2 linked regions of the Homo sapiens genome follow. The protein of the gene in region 1 interacts with the protein of each later gene in a biochemical or structural test. Each region holds a gene or a part of one and is shown in the gene's direction. Other genes may lie near its edges.

What was found. Proteins that work in one complex are often made in the same cells at the same time.
Region 2: of the proteins of H4C14 (region 1) and RPS6KA5, one has a biochemical effect on the other in vitro, tested with the Homo sapiens proteins (one study listed by BioGRID).

Annotation. Positions count from the first base shown.
Region 1 is NC_000001.11:149,827,548-149,834,401, forward strand, and holds H4C14 (histone H4), read left to right. Parts: upstream 1-5,109; 5' UTR 5,110-5,137; coding exon 5,138-5,449; 3' UTR 5,450-5,505; downstream 5,506-6,854. UniProt on the Homo sapiens protein: Core component of nucleosome. Nucleosomes wrap and compact DNA into chromatin, limiting DNA accessibility to the cellular machineries which require DNA as a template.
Region 2 is NC_000014.9:91,049,741-91,057,641, reverse strand, and holds part of RPS6KA5 (ribosomal protein S6 kinase alpha-5), read left to right. Parts: intron 1-5,179; exon of another isoform or gene 5,180-5,319; intron 5,320-7,901. UniProt on the Homo sapiens protein: Serine/threonine-protein kinase that is required for the mitogen or stress-induced phosphorylation of the transcription factors CREB1 and ATF1 and for the regulation of the transcription factors RELA, STAT3 and ETV1/ER81, and that contributes to gene activation by histone phosphorylation and functions in the regulation of inflammatory genes.

The DNA of each region.
Region 1 (6,854 bases):
GTGGCAGGCGCCTATGATCCCAGCTACTTGGGAGGCTGAGGCAGGAGAATCGCTTGAACCCGAGAGGCGGAGGTTGCAGTGAGCAGAGATCTCGCCACTGCACTCCAGCCTGGGCAACCGAGAGAGACTCTCTCAAAAAAACAAAAACAAAAATAAAAGCAATTTCTTCTCTCTGCATTCTCCATGTTACTGAAACCTAACATCAACCCCATAGCTCCTCAGGCCAGAAGCTCCTTTATTGCATGCATTCTCCAAATGCCTAAATCACCAATTTTTTCTTTCTTTCTTTCTTTCTTTCTTTCTTTCTTTCTTCTTTCTTTTTTTTTTTTTTTTTTTTTGATACGGAGTCTTGCTCTGTTGCCTAGGCTGGAGTGCAGTGGTGCGATCTCAGCTCACTGCAAGCACCGCCTCCCGGGTTCACGCCATTCTCCTGCCTCAGCCTCCTGAGTAGCTGGGACTACAGGCACCCGCCACCACGTCCGGCTAATTTTTTGTATATGTAGTAGAGACGGGGTTTCACCGTGTTAGCCAGGATGGTCTCGATCTCCTGACCTCGTGATCTACCCGCGTTGGCTTCCCAAAGTGCTGGGATTACAGGTGTCAGCCACCACGCCCGGTCAATTTTTGTATTTTTAGCAGAGAGGAGGTTTCACTGTGTTGGCCAGGCTGGTCTCGAACTCCTGACTTCATGTGATCGGCCCACCTTGGCCTCACAAAGTGCTGAGATTACAGGCATGAGCCATCACGCCCCGCCCTAAAACACCAAATCTTATTAAATCTATATTCTACAACTCTGTCACATCCATCACTTCATCTCTGCCCACTCCTAGCACTGACTTAGCTGAGGACATCATCAATTCTGATCAAAGGACCCTAAGTCTAAGTAACAATACCACTTTCATGGTAGGCTTTCCCCGGAACCAGCTGGACATAATGAGAATTTTCAAGAGAATGTGAATTGCTCTTTACTTGATTTTCTTTTTTTTTGAGATGGAGTATCGCTTTTGTCGCCCAGGCTGGAGTGCAATGGTGCGATGTCAGCTCACTGCAACCTCCACCTCCCGGGTTCAAGCGATTCTCCTGTCAGCTTAGCCTCCTGGGTAGGTGGGATTACAGGCGCCCGCCACCAAGCCCGGCTAATTTTTTTTTTTTTTTTTTTGTATTTTTAGTAGAGATGGGGTTTCACCATGTTGGTCAGGCTGGTCTGGAACTCCTGACCTCAGGTGATCCGTCCGCCTCGGCCTCCCAAAGTGCCGGGATTTCAGGCACGAGCCACCGTTCCCGGCGATTTTCTTTTCTTTAAGACTAATCTGAAAGTGCGGAACTCTGTGTACCTGAAATGATTACATTTTGATATTGACATGAAAAAATTGGGTACTACTTTGCCCCAGTTTCTCAACCCAACAAAGACATTCCAAAAGTTTCCTATGGGGCCTAGGAAGGTTGGCCTTCACAGGATAGTGGCAGGAGTGTTAACTTTGTCCTATTACCAAAAGGTGTCAAAGCTGTTACTAAATTGTCTGTGTCAGTATCGGAAACCCCGACAGCACTGGAGAATTCCTCATGGTCCTTCCAGACCATGGTCACAGTGAGAAGCAGATTCTGTTGCCCTGGCCCTGTGGGGAAATCCCCAAGATGGCTGCTGATAGTTAAGGAAACAGTGTCCTGCCATGGCCTGACCCTAGGCTGGGTGAGAGAGAGTGGGTCAGACAGGCTGCACTTCCTCAGTGAGTGTGCATACACCTGTTCGCACTGCCTATCGTTTCCTCACCCAGTGTGAGAGCAGGGGGCTCAGTTGGGCTGAGTGGAGAATTCATGGGACCTTTCCATGGTCAAGGCCCAGAGCTTCTATTGTGTAGCATCCCTGGAACAGAGAACAGGAGGCAGTCACAAGGCCCCAGCTTCAACCTTTGACAGTACACCAGAAAAGACCAAGTAGTGAGGCCTCCACTGTCTCACACCAGCCAAGAAAGACCAGGTCTTAGACTATCCAGTGTTCCTGCCTCTCTTTCACGGTGCTGTATCTGGGGAATGAATACTCCATTGTCATAGGAGGGGCAGATGCGGGCGGAAGACTCAGAAGGGTCAAGGTAGGACATAGACATTCCCACTAAGCTAGAGACCCCTGAACTGCCATAGCCATGACATGCACACGTTGTCCTCAAATCCCAGGGCCATGGGCAGGTCTTGGATATCTTTGGAATTTTAAGTTGGTTGGCATCTGTCTAGTTTTAAACCTGATTTAGGTTCAGTTCAACCAGGGAGTATGATTCTTTGGGGAGAGGGCCCTGACCTAGAAATCTACATGCTCAGCGGTCTGCTCAGCCACTAATGGCTCTGACACACTGGAAAGGCACTCACCCTCTGGGAGTTTCAGACTGTATCTTTGAAAACAAAATTCAGTGGATGGGGTGCAAAGGTATTGTCCTCAACAGCTCTAAGTTACTACTTCTAACTCACAGAGCACATATCACAAAGGATCCCACTATCCATTGTCGGTCTGAGCAGGGAATGAGACTTTGGCAGACCATGAATCCTGTATTAATTTCTAGGGGGACTATAACAAAATACCACAGACTTGGGGGTTTAAACTGAGATTGCACCACTGCACTCCAGCCTGGGTGACAGAGTAAGACCCTGAGTCAAACAAAAAAAAAAAAAGTGTATACATGGGAGCACTCTGTGATGAGTAACTCAAAGGAGTGGTTAGAATTTGGGATCTACCTAGCAGCAGGGGAAAAGGAGGAGGAGTAAAGGACATATGGAAAACCAAATGACTTTTGAAAAGATAAATGGGCCCTTAGAATAGATGGAAGATTCGAGTCTTGTGACAATGTCTATTTGGGTGTGGTGACCACTTCTCATCTCCGAGGTTAGATTTGCTTCTAGTGCTGAAGAAGATTTATGACAACTGAGTTAAAAATTTGAGATTTGCGAGGAGGATCTGCTATTAAACAGGTAAGGGATTTTAGCTGTTTGTTTCAGCTGAAAATAATTCTTAAGTCGAAACTGGCACATTTGGAGGTAGCATGTCCTGATCCCCTTAAAAAGGGAACTGCACAGACACCGTATCTCTGATTCTGCCCAGGGTCCTGTGCCCTCTGACACCAGAAATCACCACTTCTCTCAGCCTTGTTTTGCGGTTGTTTTATCATGTTGCAATTTGGTTATGTCTTTTCTAATAGTGTTTAAAAGCAATCAAAGGCAGGAACTTTTCCTTTTATAAACTATTGTTGAGCTTATATTGGACACTGAACTAAGTGTCAGTTTACAAAAATGAATAAACAAAAATCACTGCCAGTAGGGAACACACAGCCAAGATGGGGGAGTAGTAAGATGTAAAGAGATGTAAAATAATGTGATAGATTCGGCCAGAGTTACTAAAGAGTCAGAAAAGGGCAAGCATGTTTCTTCCCTGTCCTGAAGCAGCCAAGGGAGAGGAAGATATCTGTTGCCAATGCTGGGGTGTTGGTTTAGGCATGTAGATGCTGTGATGCGCAGTGGAACCGTTCAATGAGCAGACAGGAGAACCAGCTTTATGCGGGGAGGGAGAGAATTGCTCCCCTCATCCCCCGTGAGTCACACCCTGGAGATTATAAGTTTAAACATTTTGATTTCGGGAGATTTTGAGTTTTGGGCTTAAAATGACTGAAGAACCACCAGGTGGATCTACGTGTCTCGAGTCCAGAAGTCTGAATACAGATTTACGATTTATGAGCACACAGAAGGTGGATCCAAGGGAGAGATTAAACAGGGCACAGAAGAGTTTTTAAAAATAATATTTTTCGGGAAAAAAACCCCAACAAAACACGATTCTTTCAGCAGAAACCAGAAGATTTTCTCATAGACTCTCCTACAGAGAGCCCTGATAAAGTAATAAACATGCTAACAGTAAGAACCCCAACCAATTTCATAGGGCAGTTTGCGGTAACTACTCCCAGTATGGAGCAGACAGTCCTCTTGCAAAACCCGATTTAGCAAACTTTGCTAGCTCCATGTGGGGCCTCCAAAGGACACAGCTGGGCACTAAATCCTGGCTGAAAACAAAGGCCGATTTAGAGGATCCGTAGAAACGGATGCACAGAATATCCCTCAGTCTTCTCTATGTAGCAGGCCCTCCATATACGCGGGTTCCCCAAGACCGAAAATATTAAACAAATGAATTTCTTTTTTAAAAAAAAGTACAACAAAAGATAGTAAAAATAAAAACAGTATAACAATTACTTACATAGCATTTACACTGGATTAGGTGTTACGAAGTAATTTAGAGACTATTTAAAGTACACGGGAGGATGTGCATAGTTATGTGCAAATACTACGCCACTTTCTATGAGAGACTTGAGCAACCTGGATTTTGGTATCGGCGGGGGCCCTGGACCAATCCCCTCTCAGTTCTACCGAGGGAGAACTGTTTTGTTTCTTCCAGCACGGCTTTGACCGACAGTGTGTTGGGATTCGCTGACGTCCATGAGAAAGCTTGGCAGCATGCTGAGACCAATTTTCCCAGGGCCAGAATTCTCCTGTGTGAGCTAAAATACAGTGGCTCGGTCCAACAAAACAGAGCCTGGAGCCAGGAATTATGGCGAACCTGCTCCCTCCCGTCCTCCCTTGGCGCACAGATCCCTGGCGCCGCCGCTCTTGAGGTCGCCTCTCGCGTGTCGACCTCATCGTCGGAACGGCGCTTCCTGAAGCTTTATATAAGCACGGCTCTGAATCCGCTCGTCGGGATTAAATCCTGCGCTGGCGCGCTCCTGCCAGTCTCTGGCCTCCATTTGCTCTTCCTGAGGCTCCCTCCAGAGACCTTTCCCTTAGCCTCAGTGCAATGCCTTCCGGGCGTCCTCAGACCAGACACAGGCCAAAGCCACTACAGAATCCGGAAGCCCCGGTTGGGATCTGAATTCTCCCGGGGACTGTGGCGTAGCGGTTAAAAAAAAAAAAGAGTGAGAGGGACCTGAGCAGAGTGGAGGAGGAGGGAGAGGAAAACAGAAAAGAAATGACGAAATGTCGAGAGGGCGGGGACAATTGAGAACGCTTCCCGCCGGCGCGCTTTCGGTTTTCAATCTGGTCCGATACTCTTGTATATCAGGGGAAGACGGTGCTCGCCTTGACAGAAGCTGTCTATCGGGCTCCAGCGGTCATGTCCGGCAGAGGAAAGGGCGGAAAAGGCTTAGGCAAAGGGGGCGCTAAGCGCCACCGCAAGGTCTTGAGAGACAACATTCAGGGCATCACCAAGCCTGCCATTCGGCGTCTAGCTCGGCGTGGCGGCGTTAAGCGGATCTCTGGCCTCATTTACGAGGAGACCCGCGGTGTGCTGAAGGTGTTCCTGGAGAATGTGATTCGGGACGCAGTCACCTACACCGAGCACGCCAAGCGCAAGACCGTCACAGCCATGGATGTGGTGTACGCGCTCAAGCGCCAGGGGCGCACCCTGTACGGCTTCGGAGGCTAGGCCGCCGCTCCAGCTTTGCACGTTTCGATCCCAAAGGCCCTTTTTAGGGCCGACCACTTGCTCATCTGAGGAGTTGGACACTTGACTGCGTAAAGTGCAACAGTAACGATGTTGGAAGGTAACTTTGGCAGTGGGGCGACAATCGGATCTGAAGTTAACGGAAAGCTACCGCGGCCCATAGCGCTCACAGCCGTAAAGACTTAAGTCGTTGACCGAAAGCGGCTTTTTCACTTACCTGGGCTTTTTTTTTTTTTTTTTTTTTTTTTAAAGCCTTTATCGGTATGAAAGGTTGAATGCTCTAGGTTTGAGCACTGCTTTCTCGGCTTGCTCTTCTGGTGCAGTATAGGCACACCTAGAGGGCCACGTCAGTCTTTGCGATCACCAAATCTGGTTCTGAGAAATAGGCACTGGCAATTTACACATGCCTTGCTGTGTAATCTCACTATATTTGCTCAGGCAAAGTGGGAGAAGCAGCCTTAGGTTTTCATTCTAGAGATGCCGGCTTTCCCACCTGATCGGCTTAGAGTTCACGATTGACTGTTTTGGGCTTCATTTCACCCTCTACATAACAAGCGGGTGGACTAGATGCCTTAGCAAGGGTCCGTGTTGTGTGGTGTCTCCAGCCACGCACTCAGCTCAATCTTAGCACAGTTAAAAAATGCCTTTCTAGCAAGTTATCTGCCCAGTGCCTGAAAAGTATCATTTCTTGTGTTCAATAAAAAGCCTCCTAATTTAATCAAGGACCTATGAGATAACTGTCTTTTAGTTGTGGCATTGCAAGGATACAAATGCAGAGATATTTTAAAGTGATCCTTCTGTAAGAGTGAACCAACGATATGATCTGAAAGCAACTTCACAGGTAATTCAGGTATGTGACTTCTACCTCTTAGGGCCTGTTGTAGCTTAGAATGAGAGACCTGCAGAAACATGCCCACCATCAATACAGAAAGCACAATTTAATTTTGACAAGGCCAAAAGCCAATTCTGTATCAGCATGGCGTATATTACAGCAAGCTATTCTTTACGCTACCACCTCTAAATTGCCCTAATTTGGATTAAAATGTGGGTTCACATTTCTAATCCTTATAGTTTTGCAGCCATTGCATTGCCCGTAAGATTTTTTTTTTCTTCATTCCAGGCTTATGATTTTACTGTGTATGTATTTGGGAGAAGAAATTCTGTCAGCTCCCAAAGGATAAACCAGCAGTTGCTTTATTGGTCTTCAGATGTGGCTGCAAACACTTGAGACTGAACTAAGCTTAAAACACGGTACTTAGCAATCGGGTTGCCAGCAAAGCACTGGATGCAAGCCTTGCCTTCCAGAAGCTTACCAGTCGGGTTGCCAGCAAAGCAGTGGATGCAAGACTTGCCCTCCAGGAGCTTACCATCACAACGAAGAAGACAA
Region 2 (7,901 bases), on another chromosome or scaffold:
GCTGTTATCTTTTTCTGTATATGTCCAGTCTTCTCATGTAGAGTGTAAATTCGCCATAATCTTTGCGGCTGCTCAGCAGCCTGTGTGGATCTCTTCAGTAACAGTTAACACACGGTACTATAATAGTCCATTTACTTGTATTACAGTCTAATACAGATTAGACTGTAAGGTCCTTGAGGGCAGGCAGGCAGGCAGACACCATGTCCTTTGTTTATTTGCAGCCCCTGGCATATAGTAGGTACTTAATATTTGTTGAATGGATTCACTGAATGCATGAGAATCCAGGAGCAAGTCTAGTAAGTTTATTGTATTACCAGTGCCTTGCAGATGTTAGGTGGTTGATAAGTGGATGACAGTGACTGTAAAAGCTGAAGAATGCAGAGTATAGGATTGAACAGATCACTTAAACATACATTTCTTGAATGTATGTCTAAGAAAATGTCCCGCCCTCTAGTAGTAGGGGAGGAGGCCATATAAACCAGTAATTAAGATAATACTGCCTTGGGAGGCTGAGGCGGGTGGATCACGAGGTCAAGAGATGGAGACCATCCTGGACAACCTGGTGAAACCCCATCTCTACTAAAAATACAAAAAATTAGCTGGGCATGGTGGCACGTACCTGTAGTCCCAGCTACTCGGGAGGCTGAGGCAGGAGGTTCTCTTGAACCCAGGAGGCGGAGGTTGCAGTGAGCCGAGATCATGCCATTGCACGCCAGCCTGACAACAGAGCAAGACTCCCATCTCCAAAAAAAAAAAAAAAAAAAAAAAAAAAAAGATAATACTGCCTTAAGTATAACAGTAAAGGGATATTCAAGTATAAAGTTAGCAAAGAATGGGTTAGGACTTTTAGCTTTCAAATAATCAAATCTTCAACAACAATAACAAAAAGGATATTATTGGAAGGAGATTGGGTTATCTTACCCACTTATTTAGTAAGTATTTTATTTCCTCTTACATACTGGGTGCGATTTTAGATGCTTGGATGATAGGACATGTATGGTCTGTCCACTGGAAGAACTGGGTTGCATCAGGAACCATTGGAAGCAGAAACTTAGCATTGTCTGTATTTTGTCCACCTTGAATCTCTGCTTGTCACTATGTGATGGCTTTATTCTTCCCCACTACTGTGCCACTTTTCCCACATGGGAAAGATCATGCTGTTGATAGACTGCAAGTTTTACATCCTACAGCTTCCACTACTGAAAAGACACCGCCGCCTTCTCAGCTTCAGTTATAAAGATCTCAGGGAAGGACTTTTTTGGCCTGCCTTTGGTGAGGTATCCACTTTTGGATCATTCACCTAAAGCCAGGGGATGGGATCATGTTTTTGTAACATGGCAGCAATTTCTGTAAACATGGATAGGGATAAAACTAAACTCTAAGAAGAGGAGGAGTTGCTGGGAAGACATTTACTTAGATGCCTGTTATTAGGAGAGAGAGCCTAACATTGAGGAGAAGGTCGAGGAAGTTTATGTATTGTGGTGTAACAAATTATTCCAAACCTTAGTGGCTTAAACAACATGATTTGTGTGGGTCAGGAATTTAGGAGTGGCTTAGCTTATTGGTTCTTTTTTTTAATCCTAAGTGAATTAACACAGGAAGCTTCTTGATTCTAACTCAGGGACCCTCATGAAGTTGAAGTCAAGGTGTTGGCCAGGACTGCAGTCACCTGAAGACTTGTCTGGGTCTAGTGATTCCCCTTCCGAGATGGCTTACTCACATGTTGGCAGGTTCCTTGCCATGTGGGCCTCTCCATAGCGTGGCTTGAGCATTCTCATGACAGGCAGCTGGTTTCCCCAAAAACAAGTGATCTGAGAGACAGCGAGGTGGAACCTACCATGCCATGTCTTTTGTTGTTGTTTTGTTTTTTTGGAGACGGAATCTATCCAGGCTGGAGTGCAGTGGTGCGATCATGGCTCACTATAATTTCAAACTCCTAGGCTCAAGAGATCCTCCTGCCTCAGCCTCCTGAGTAACTCTGGGACTACGGGCATGCACCACCACACCTGGCTAATTTATTATTTTTTTGTAGAGACAGGATCTCATTATGCTCACACTGGTCTCCAACTCCTGGGCTCAAGAGATCATCCCACCTGGGCCTCCCAAAGTACTGAGATTACGGGTGTGAGCCAACCTGCCCGGCAAAATTAATCCATTTGTAGCATGCATCAGTACTTCATTTTGTTGTTGTTGTTGATAAATTGTGTTCCATTGTATAGATATACCAAGTTTTGTTTATGCATTCACCACTTGTTTGAAATTTGGGTTGTTTCCACCTTTTGGCTATTGTAAATAATGCTGCTTTGCACATTTGTGGACAAGTTTTTGTGTGGACCTATGTTTATTTCTCTTGGGTATGTAACAGCAGTAAAACTGCTGGATCACTTGTTAAAACAAAGCTAAACAAAGTCTGGGTTTACCTTTGTAAGAAACTGCCAAACTGTTGTCCAGAGTGGCTGTATCATTTTATATTCCCATCAGCAATTTATGAGGCCTCCAGTTCCTTCACAGCCTAACCAACATTGTCTGTCTTTTTGCTTATCATAGGGAGTGTGAAGTGATTTTCCATTTCCCTAATGCCTAATGACAAGCATCTTTTCATGTGCTTATTGGCCATTTGTATACCTTTGGAGAAATTTGATTCAGATCCTTTGCCCAGTTTAAAATTGGCTAGTTTGTCTTTTTTTATTATTGAGATATGAGAGTTCTTTATGTATTTTAGGTACATGTCTCTTATCAGGAATATGGATTTGCATATATTTTCCTCCATAAATGAGCTGTCTTTTCACTTTTTTGATGGTTTCCTTAGGAGCACAAAAGTCTTTAATTAAAAAAAAATTTTTTTTTTTAAATAATAGAGATGGGTTCCTGCTATGTTGCCCAGGCTGGTCTCGAACTCCTGGGCTTAAGTGATTCTCCCTCCTCGGCCTCCCAAAGTGTTGGGATTGTAGGTGTGAGCCACTGTGCCTGGCCTAAAAGTCTTTAATTTTTTTTTTTTTTTTTTCTGAGACAGAGTCTTGCTGTGTTGCCCAGGTGGAATGCAGTGGCATGATCTTGCCTCACTGCAACCTCTGCCTCCTGGGTTCCAGCAATTCTCATGCTTCAGCCCCCTGAGTAGCTAGGATTACAGGCGAGTGCCACCATGCCTGGCTAATTTTTGTATTTTCAATAGAGACGAGGTTTCACCATGTTGGCCAGGCTGATCTTGAACTCCTGTCCTCAAGGGATCCACCTGCCTCAGCCTCCCAAAGTGTTGGGATTACAGGTGTGAGCCACCGCTCCTGGCCCTAAAAGTCTTTAATGTTGATGAAACCTTTTTTTTTTCTTTTTCATTTTATTCTTGTGTCTAAGAAATCATTGACTAATTCAAGATTATGAAGATTGATGTCTCTGTTTTCTTCTAAGAGTTTATGGCTTTAGCTGTTACATTTAGATCATTGATCCATTTTAAGGTAATTGCTGGATATCATGTGAGGTAGTGATTCAGACTCATTCTTCTGCATGTAAATATCCAATTGTTCCAGCACCATTAGCTGAAAAGACTATTTTTTTCTCCATTTTAATGTCTTGGCACCCTTATTGAAAATCAGTTGACTATAGATGTATGGGTTTATTTATTTTATACTCTCAGTTCTCTTCCAGTGATCTATATGTCTCTCCTTATAGCAGTACCATGCTGTCTTGACTACTACAGTTTTTTAGTAAGTTTTGAAATTGAGAAGTGTGAGTCTTATTCTTCAACATTGTTTTGGTTATTCTGGATTCCTTGTATTTCCATATGGATTCTAGGATCAGCTTGTTAGTGTCTGCAAAGAAGCCAACTCAGTGGCATTCTGATAGGGATCTCATTGAATTTTTAGTTAAACTTTGGCAGTGTTGCCATCTTAGCAATGTTAAGTCGTCTGATCTATGAACATGAGATGTCTTTCCATTTATTTAGGTTGTCTTCAATTACTTTCAACAACGTTTTTCCGTTTAAGGAGTATAAATTTGCACTTTTGTTAAATTTATTTCTAAGTATTTTATTATTTATTTATTTTTTGATGCTATAGTAAAAGGAACTAGTTTCTTACTTTTATTTTTGGATTGTTCATTCCAAGAGTATAGAGGTACAGTTTTTACCTTGTGTCCTGCAACCTTGGTGAACTAGTTTATTGGTTCTAATAGTTTAGTGGACACCTTAGGATTTTCTATTTATAAGATTGTGTTAGCCATGGATAGAGATAATTTTACTTCTTTCTTTCCAATCCAGATATCTTTTGTTTCAATTTCCTGCTTAATTGCCTTGGCCAGAACCTTCACTATGGTTCAATAGAACTTGCAAGAGCAGACATCCTTGTCTTATTCCTGATCCTAGGGTGAAAGCTTTAGTCTTCTACCACTGAGTATGGGGTTAGCTATGGGTTTTTCATAGATGTATTTTATCAAATTGAAGAATTTCACTTCTCCTCCTAGTTTGGGTGTTTTTTTAAATCATGAAAGAGTGCTGGATTTTGTCAGATGCTTTTTTCTGCATCTATTAAGATGACCATTTTTTTTGTTCTGTTCATATGGTGTATTACATTAATTAACTTTTGAATGTTAAGCCAACCTTGTATTCCTGGGATAAATCTTGTTTGTCATGGTATATAATCCTTTTTCTTTGTTGCTGGATTCAGTTTGCTTGTATTTTATTAAGGATTTGTATCTATATCCATAAGAAATCTTTGTAGTGTTCTTTTTTGGTGATACCTCTGTCTAGTCTCCCCAAAATATTCTTGATTGAGTTCTGTCACCAACTAAAGAGCTTTTTTTTTTTTTTTTTTTTTGGAGATGGAGTCTCGCTCTGTTCCCAGGCTGGAGTACAGTGACGCGAACTCTGCTCACTGCCAGCTCTGCCTCCTGGGTTCACGCCATTTCTCCTGCCTCAGCCTCCCAAGTAGCTGGGACTACAGGCACCTGCCACCACGCCCAGCTAACTTTTTTTTTTTTTTGTACTTTTAGTAGAGACGGGGTTTCATCGTGTTAGCCAGGACGGTCTCGATCTCCTGACCTCATGATCCATCCGCCTTGGCCTCCCAAAGTACTGGGATTACAGGCTTGAGCCACCGCGCTTGCCTAAAGATCTTATCTATTTGATTAGTGGTATCCATATTTACAATCTCTTAAGTAAATCTGTTTTTTTTTTTTTTTTTTTAAGAGACGAGTCTACTCTGTTGCCCAGGCTGGAGTGTGGTGCTGATCTCGGCTCACTATAACCTCCGCCTCCTGGGTTCAAGTGATTCTCCTGCCTCAGCCTCCCAAGTGGCTGGGATTACAGGCACCCACTACCATACCCAGGTAATTTTTTTTTTTTTTTTTTTTTTTTTTTTTTTTTAGTAGAGATGGGGTTTTGCCATGTTGGCCAGGCTGGTCTTGAACTCCTTACCTCAGATGATCCATCTGCCTGGGCCTCCCAAAGTGCTGGGATTACAGGCATGAGCCACTGCATCTGGCCTTAAGTAAAGATTTAACAGAGGTAGGGAGTGGACTGTAGTTCTAAGTCAGCCCCTAATTTGCTATATGACCTGGGATAAGTCATTTTGCCTTTCTGAGCCCAAGTTTTTTGATTCATAAAGTAAAGGTGATGGACTGAGTTATAATCAAAGTATTTACGAGCATTAAAGCTCTTCTGTGGCATTTCCATGGAAATTCTGGTATAGACAAAGTTAGTTCCTTGTCTTTTCCCGATCCTAGGGGGAAGGCTTTAGTCTTCTACCACTGAGTATGAAGTTAGCTGTGAGTTTTTCATAGATGTTCTTTCTCAGGTTGACAAAGTTCTCTTCTATTCCTAGTTGGTTTGGGTGAGCTTTTTCTTTTTTTTTTAAATCTTTCGGCCAGACATGGTGGCTCATGCCTGTAATCCCAGCACTTTGGGAGGCCGAGGCAGGTGGATCACCTGAGGTCAGGAGTTCGAGACCAGCCTGGCCAACATGGTGAAACCCCATCTCTAGTAAAAATACAAAAACTTAGCTGGGCACGGTGGCGGGCACCTGTAATCCCAGCTACTTGGAAGCTGAGGCAGGAGAATTGCTTGAACCTGGGAGGCGGAGGTTGCAGTGAGCTGCGATCGCACCATTGCATTCCAGCCTGGGCAACAACAGCAAAACTCTGTCTCAAAAAAATAAAAAAATAAAAGGATGTTTCATGATAAAAAGTCCAGAGTGGTGATTTACTTTATTGTTGTTGTATTTTAAAATTTCATTTTATTGAGACAGAATCTCACTATGTTGCCCAGGCTGGTCTTGAACTCCTGGGCTCAAGCAGTCTTCCCATCTCTGCCTCCCAAAGTGTGGAGATTACAGGTATGAGCCACCATTCCCGGCTAGTGATTTACTTTATTTATTTATTTATTTATTTATTTATTTATTTATTTATTTTTATTTAGACAGGGTCCCACTCTGTCGCTCAGGCTGGAGTGCAATGGCGTGATCTCAGCTCACTGCAACCACTGCCTCCTGGGTTCAAGTGATCCTCCCACCTCAGCCTCCCAAGTAGCTGGGACTACAAGTGTGTGCCACCACACACCGCCACGCTTAGCTTATTTTTGTATTTTTTGGTAGAGGTGGGGTTTCGCTATGTTGGCCAGGCTGGTCTGGAACTCCTGACCTCACGTGCTCCACCTGCCTCGACCTCCCAAATGGCTGGAATTACAGACATGAGCCACCACACCTGACCCTATGATTTACTTTAAAAGATCATCCTGTTTTACCAAAGGATTCATGTTGGATCTGTTGAAAAACAACAGTTCCCTGCTGCTTTTTGAATGTGGTTCCATTAATAATGATTTGATTTGTAATTAGCTTTTAAGAAACATAACTATTAGTTCCAATAAGATACTTGCTTTTTTTTTATTTTTATTTTTTTAAACAAACATAGCTTACAAAAGCAAGCCGGCTGGGCGCGGTGGCTCACGCCTGTAATCCCAGCACTTTGGGAGGCTGAGGCGGGTGTATCACCTGGGGTCGGGAGTTTGAGACCAGCCTGGCCAACATGGTGAAACCCTGTCTCTACTAAAAATACAAAAATTAGCCAGCCATGGTGGCAGATGCCTATAATCCCAGCTACTTGGGAGGCTTAGGCAAGAGAATTGCTTGAACCTGGGAGGCGGAAGTTGCAGTGAGCCGAGATTGTGCCACTGCACTCCAGCCTGAGGGACAGAGTCAGACTGTGCCAAAAACAAACAAACAAACAAAAAACAAGCCAATAAGATGCTTTGTTTTTGTTTTTGTTTTTGTTATTTTTGAAGATAAGGTCTTCTCTGTTGCCCAGGCTGGAATACAGTGGTGATAATAGTTCACCGCAGCTTCAAACTCTTGGGCTCAAGTGAACCTTCTGCCTCAGCCTCCCAAGTAGCTAGGACTGTAGGCACATACCACCATGCCTGGCTAATTTTCTTTTTATTTTTTGTAGAGATAGGGTCTTGCTATGTTGCCCAGGCTGGCCTTGAACTTCTGGCCTCAAGCAATCCTCCTGCCTCAGCCTCCCAAAGTGCTGAGATTATAGGCAGCCCAGTAAGAAACTTTGAAAGATTTCAGTGACAGTTGTAGTTATGTATGAGTACAGTGCAGCTCTCCTTTTTATACTATACATATGTAAATGTATATATTCATGAGCTGCATAATGACATTTTGGTCAATGGCAGACTGCATGTAGATTGTGGTCAATGAAATTGCGTTACTGTATTTTTACTCTACTCTTTCTCTGGTTAGATACACAAATACTTAAAATTGTTTTACAGTTGCCTATGGTATTCAGTACAGTAGCATGCTGTACAGGCTTATAGCCTTGGAACAATAGGCTATATACCATATACCAGGTGTGTAGTAACCTATACCATCTAGGTTTGTGTAAGTAAACTCTATGGTGTTTGTGCAACCATG